Linked DNA regions of Homo sapiens: region 2 is reported to be linked to region 1. The links are microRNA targets in miRTarBase. Many come from high-throughput screens and were not tested one by one. Region 1 holds a microRNA gene; the other region holds the end of a gene's coding sequence. Distances are from middle to middle.

Evidence for each region. Region 1 holds the annotated microRNA hsa-miR-6808-5p (CAGGCAGGGAGGUGGGACCAUG, at 1,529-1,550, opposite strand). A microRNA usually pairs through its seed, bases 2 to 8, with sites in the 3' UTR of a target mRNA and lowers its output. Matches are read on the target gene's strand: a 7mer-m8 pairs with bases 2 to 8, a 7mer-A1 pairs with bases 2 to 7 and ends in A, and an 8mer does both.
Region 2: miRTarBase lists SLC2A5 as a target of hsa-miR-6808-5p. Seed matches in the 3' UTR shown: 7mer-m8 at 1,682-1,688.

The regions. Positions count from the first base shown.
Region 1 is chr1:1,338,154-1,341,257 of GRCh38, forward strand. MIR6808 (microRNA 6808) reads right to left here and starts at 1,555; the gene lies at 1,497-1,555. It overlaps DVL1 (dishevelled segment polarity protein 1), which reads right to left. Exons shown (of 15, transcript NM_001330311.2): 6 at 2,257-2,350; 7 at 2,094-2,163; 8 at 1,885-2,024; 9 at 1,583-1,659; 10 at 1,429-1,496; 11 at 1,134-1,286; 12 at 369-500; 13 at 116-283; 14 at 1-30.
Region 2 is chr1:9,035,062-9,038,142 of GRCh38, forward strand. SLC2A5 (solute carrier family 2 member 5) reads right to left here. Exons shown (of 12, transcript NM_003039.3): 11 at 2,836-2,963; 12 at 45-2,728. The coding sequence ends at 2,525. Among named protein-coding and RNA genes, the nearest start is that of SLC2A7, 10 kb to the left of the region's middle. RefSeq lists enhancers at 2,134-2,203, 2,644-2,723.

The DNA of each region.
Region 1 (3,104 bases):
AGCCACTGTTGAGGTTCAGGGTGGCGAGATCTGGCGGGGGAGGGTAGGTGAGGGCCGCGGAGGGGCCTCCGGCGTTCCCCTCCCCCCCGCCCTGAAGCCCGAAGCCCCCACTCACTGCTGCAGAGATCCCCGAAGACGTAGTAGCACTGCTCGGAGAAGGTGATCTTGTTGACCGTGTGCCGCAGGAAGCCGTGCTTCAGCAAGCTGCTGGCGTACTTCCGGGCCTCCCGCCGCTCCTTGAAGCCCTCCACGTGTGTGTACAGCCAGTCCACCACGTCCGCCCCTGGCCGGCACCAGCGGTCAGCCCGCAGCCTCGAGGCAAGCAGCCCTGCCCCTGGCACTATCCGCCCGCGGGGACGGCCACTCACCGATGACGGCATTGGCGATGGTGATCTTGAGCCACATGCGGTCGCGGATCTCCAGTCCCGAGTCTGGCAGCTGCATGACCCGGACGACGGCGCTCATGTCACTCTTCACCGTCAGCGGCGCCTCTTCCAGCTCTGCAAAGCACAGACAGCCCCGCTTCAGCCCCAGCATCTGAAGGCGGGGGACTCAGGGCCCTGCACCCCCAGGGGAGCCTCTGGGCAGAGCCTGCGCCAGGGCGCAAGCTGGACGGTGCGTGACAGCAGGGCCCCGGCCCACTGCAGGATGCACCCCCGTGAGGCTGGGGCGTGAGCAGGGGGGTTGGACATTTAGTCTCCCACTTCTACAGACACTTTTCATCAGGATCCTAGGCACAAACTGGGCTGACACCCCACCCTGCAGACCAGGAAGTAATGAGAACAGGGCAGGCCCCTTCCCCTCCCCGCATGCCCCACCCGAGAGCGCAGGCTGTTAGTCGTGTTAATGGCAGGAAGCAGAATGGAGACCTGGCCCCTGCCTCTGACGCCGTGGGTGCTCCCCGCATAGGGGCCCTACGTACATCCCCTGTTCCCAACACACAGACCATGAGCAGGATGGGCTGCACAAGGTGGGCACGGGTGCCTGTGCACACGTCTGTGCAGGGAGTTGGGGACAGGCAACACACACGTGTCACAGCCCCATGACGGCCACAGGCGGCCATGCTGGAGGCTGGCAGAGACGCCCCCTCCAAGCCTCGGTTTCTGCTGGGGCCCTCAGGAGCTGCCACTTACGTGGAGCACCAGGCACGGAGCTGGTTAGTGAGGAGGAGCTGGTGCGCGTGACGGCGCTGGAGCAGGGACTCGTACCGTAGCGGGGCAGGGCTCCTGTCAGTGCCGCCGTGTGGGACAGCCAGGCGGCGGGGTCGATGGGCCGCACCGGGTCAGCTGGGTGGCCGCCACGTGGCGATGACAGGCGGACAGATGGACAGGGTGGGAGGGCAGGGTGCAGGGCACAGAGGAGAGAGGCCTTCAGGCTAGGTAGGCGCCCCCTCCCCATCCCGCCCCGTGTGCCCCGAGGGCCACTCACCCCGTGGGACGGTGAAGTAGCTTCGGGGCGTTGGGTCCCAGCACTTGGCCACAGTGAGGCTGATGGGCCTGCAGGAACGGTGGTCACACAGCAAGGCCCCCATGGTCCCACCTCCCTGCCTGGCCCCTCCCGCTCCAGCGCCCCCAGCCCTCACCCCGTCTGGGAAACGATCTCCCGCAGCACCCGCACGGCATCGTCATTGCTCATGTTCTCAAAGTTCACGTCATTCACCTGCAGGGGTGGGGATTAGGGTGGTGCAGGCAGGATGTGCAGCTCAGTCCACCGCCCCCGCAGACCCACCCACAGCCGCATGTCCCCCAGCAGCCCCCGCAGACCCACCCGCAGCCGCATGTCCCCCAGCAGCCCCTACAGACCCACCCGCAGCCGCACGTCACCCCAAAGTCCCCACGGACCCACCCGCAGCTACATGTCACCCCGCAGCCCCCACAGACACACCTGCAGCAACATGTCGCCGGGCTCGATGCGGCCGTCAGCGGCCACAGCCCCGCCCTTCATGATGGAGCCAATGTAGATGCCGCCGTCTCCACGGTCGTTGCTCTGCCCCACGATGCTGATGCCCAGAAAGTGATGTCTTTCTGCAGGAAGAGCCATGAGCCGCGGCCAAGCCCCTGCCCCTGCCCCCAACCCTCGCCCCGAGGCCTCACCCATGTTGAGCGTGACAGTGACGATGTTGAGGGACATGGTGGAGTCGGTTATGCTGCTGAAGGAGGAGGCCTATGGAGGAGAGGGGGCGTGTGTAAAAGGCACGGGGCTGCCCGACACTGACTTCGCCTCCCCAGCCCCGCCCTGCTCCACCCGGCTGCCTACCCGGTCCGCCTGCCGAAGGCGCTGCTTCCTCCGCCGGCGTTTGTGCTTCCGGATGAGTCTGGATGAGGTGCTCTGCTCCGTGGAGCTGCTGAGCCTGGGAACAGACTGTCAGAGCTCAGAGGAGCTGGAGACATGGGTAGGGGGGTGGGAACCCGCTCCCCCAATACTGAGTGGGAATCGGGGGTCTAGGCCAGGCTTGTTCCAAAGCAGGCTCAGTGCCTGACGTCCACGCCCCAGGCCCTGCACACGTGATATGCATATGAGCACACACGAAAATCCCAGAGACAGGCAAACTGGGCACAGACACATGTAGCCAGATCCACTACTGACACACCTGCACACATGCACACCTGCACACACATGCACACCTGCACACACGCACCCCTGCACAAGGCACACATGCACACACCTGCACACACACCTGCACACACGCAACCCTGCACACATGCACCCCTGCGCACAGGCACACATGCACACCCCTGCACACGCACGCATGAACACACGCACACCTGCACACGCATGCACACCTGCACACACGCACCCCTGCACACTACACACCTGCACAGGCACACATGCACACCTGCATACTCACCTGCACACGCACCCCTGCACAATGCACCCCTGCACACACGCACCCCTGCACACACATGCACACCTGCACACACGCACCCCTGCACACAGGCACACCTGCACACACCTGCACACGCACGCCTGCACATGCACACCTGCACGCACACCTTCACATACACCTGTACAAGCACACCTGCACACACGCACATCTGCACACGCACACCTGCACACACGCACACGCACACATGCACACACCTGCGCACACGCGTGCATTGTGA
Region 2 (3,081 bases), 7.7 Mb from region 1:
AAACTAAATACATGTCACTGATCCAAACACCAAAAACATATAAAGTCATTTAATTCTCACAATGGACATGTGAGACATTTACTATTAGTGCCATTTAACAGAAGAGAAGACTGAGATACAAAAAAGCCAAGTAACTTTCCAAGTTGCACAACTAATGTGGCAGGACCAAGGTTTGAACCCAGGGAGCAGACATCCAGAACCATGAACTTCATAGCCTCCCCTGTGTTAGAGGTGCTGCAGTTTCTTGACTTCTGATATTCTGACCTGGCCTCTCCTCAGCTCTGAGAGCCTTCATCTTTGGTTGTTTCTGTGCCCCTTCCAGGCTGCAGATCCTTGCTGCAGAAGGCCAAGGATGGTTCAACCACAGTGTTCTGTTTACTTCCTCTGGGCCCGCTTGTGAGTGGTTTAGCTTGTTGCTGGTGGAATCTCCATTACATACCCACAAAAAGTGCTCCCAAGTCCCACTGCTCTCTCTCCCGGCCACCAGCCTCTGCCACCCATCTATGAGAAGACATCACTTCTTGCTACAGGCCATTCAGCACTTTCAAGGTTTTATCCATATTTTTGCACATACACTCACACTCACACCCTTTATTCATATCTCTAAGAAAAACCTCCAGCTCTCTATATTTTTGGGGAGAGACCTGTGTTAGACCATTTTCATGCTGCTGATAAAGATGTATCAGAGACTGGGTAAATTGCAAAGAAAAAGAGATTTAATGGACTCGCCATTCCACATGGCTGGGGAGGCCTCACAATCATGCCAGAAAGCAAAAGGCACGTCTTACCTGGTGGCAGGCAAGAGAGAATGAGAACCAAGCAAAAGGTTTTACCCCTTACAGAACCATCAGATCTCATGAGGCTGATTCACTACCATGAGAACAGTATGGGGGAAATTGCCCCCATGATTCAATTATCTCCCACAGGGTCCCTCCCAGAACACATGGGAATTATGGGAGCTACAATTCAAGATGAGATTTGGGTGGGGACACAGCCAAACCATATCAAGACCCTGTTCCTTTTCCCTTCCTCCCCCACCACAGTCTCAAGATTTTAAGACTCCTCAAGATTTCATTACATATGTGAGGACATTTGGAAGCTTCCTCAATCTTACATGTATTTATTTATTTGAGACAAGGTCTCATTCTGTCATGCAGGCTGGTGTGCAGTGATGCAATCATGACTCAGGGCAGCCTTGACCTCCCAGGCTCAAGCGATCCTCCCATTTCAGCCTCCCAAATAGCTGGGACCCCAAAGGCGTGTCACCATGCCCAATTAAAAAAATTTTTTTTGAGATGGGATCTCACTGTGTTGCCCAGGCTGGAGTATAGGGTGCAATTTCAGCTCACTGCAACCTCTACTTCCCAGGCTTAAGCAATCCTCCCACCTCAGCCTCCAGAGGCCCTCTTCGAGATGCTGGGGATTCAGGCATAAACAAAACTGACCAAGCCCCTGCCCTCAAGGAACTGACACTCGTGCAGTCAAACTGCCTGAAGTGGCCGGGCGCAGTGGCTCACACCTGTAATCCCAGCACTTTGAGGGGCCTAGGTGGGCGGATCATGAGGTCAGGAGATTGAGACTATCCTGGCCAACACAGTGAAACCCAGTCTCTACTAAAAATACAAAAAAGTTAGCCGGGCGTGGTGGCAGGCGCCTGTAGTCCCAGCTACTCAGGAGGCTGAGGCAGGAGAATGGTGTGAACCCGGGAGGTGGAGTTTGCAGTGAGCTGAGATCGCACCACTGCACTCCAGCCTGGGTGACAGAGCGAGACTCCGTCTTAAAAAAAAAAAAAAAAGCAAAAATAAAAACAAAAAAAACACTGCCTGAATGAGCAGGGAACTTCCTCCTGCCTTCTACTTGCTCAAAGAACAGCAGCACGTCTTGTTGAAAAGTGATCAGGTTCATTTTATTGACTACACAGAAGCAATTCCATTTTCCACTAACAAAATAATTTAGGATGAAGAATTCTGACTCAGTGTCTCCACAGGAACCTGTTCCTCAGCTTTCTGGATGTCATTGTTTCTGACATCACACCTTCCTAGACAGGTATTTCTGGAAAAGGATCTGGTAAGAGGATGAATTTGGCTCTAAACAAATGCCCATGGCCCCGGAAGACCTGTCGGGGCCACCAAGTTAGTTTCTCTGGCAAAATTTGATTCCTTCCATCTCACCACTATAGTAACTGTTGTTGTTATGTTACCAGGAGCCACACAAAGGTTGACCCATCAAGGTGGAGCCACGTTACCAGGAGCCACACGAAGGCTGAACCAGCAAAGTGGAGGACCAGCTGTTTAATTGACTCGGGTCTGGTGACAGGCCAACATGGAGAGAGACAGCCCAGCTTCAAGAACAGCAAGGCAGCCCTTTGCACAGTTCCCACTGGGGTGGGGAGGCTGGAGATGAGGACTGCATTCCACATCAGAGTTGTTTTATTTCTGGATATTCACAGACAGCTAGAAGTCAGAAAAATAAGCCAAAGTGGGAAGCCCCTGGCAGACCAGCTCCACTGGCTTCCTCTCCAGAGTCACTGTTCCGAAGTGACAGGTGGAAGCTCTTTCAGTTCCTCCTTTTCCGGGTACACTTCAGACACCTTATTCATCTTGGTGAAAATCTGGTTGATCTCTATGAACGTCTTGGCCTTGGTCTCCGGGACAATCAAGAAGATGTAGATGGTGGTGAGGAGGCAGATCACGGCGAAGACAATGAAGCTGTACGGGCCGAGGCCCTCCTGCGGGAAGAGGGGCAGGTGACACGTGTGGGACGTGGTTTGCCCAGGGGCTCGCACTGTACTGCATGGGGATCTGGTGGTGAGCGTGGGCCCCGGGCCCCACTCACCTGGATGAACGGGAAGATCAAGCCCACGGTGAAGTTGGAGAGCCAGTGCACACTGCCCCCCACCATGAAGGCAGATGGCCGAGAGGACTGCAGGAAGATCTCAGTGATGAGCAGCGCGGGTATGGGACCTGTAGGGGGAGGAGAGCAGCCTCCCTGAAGGCAGAGCGGGCCCGAGCATCCCAGGCCTGGCCATGCAGACCCACCAGGTAGCTGGCCCCAGGACAGAGGCGTCTCCAGGACTCTTGG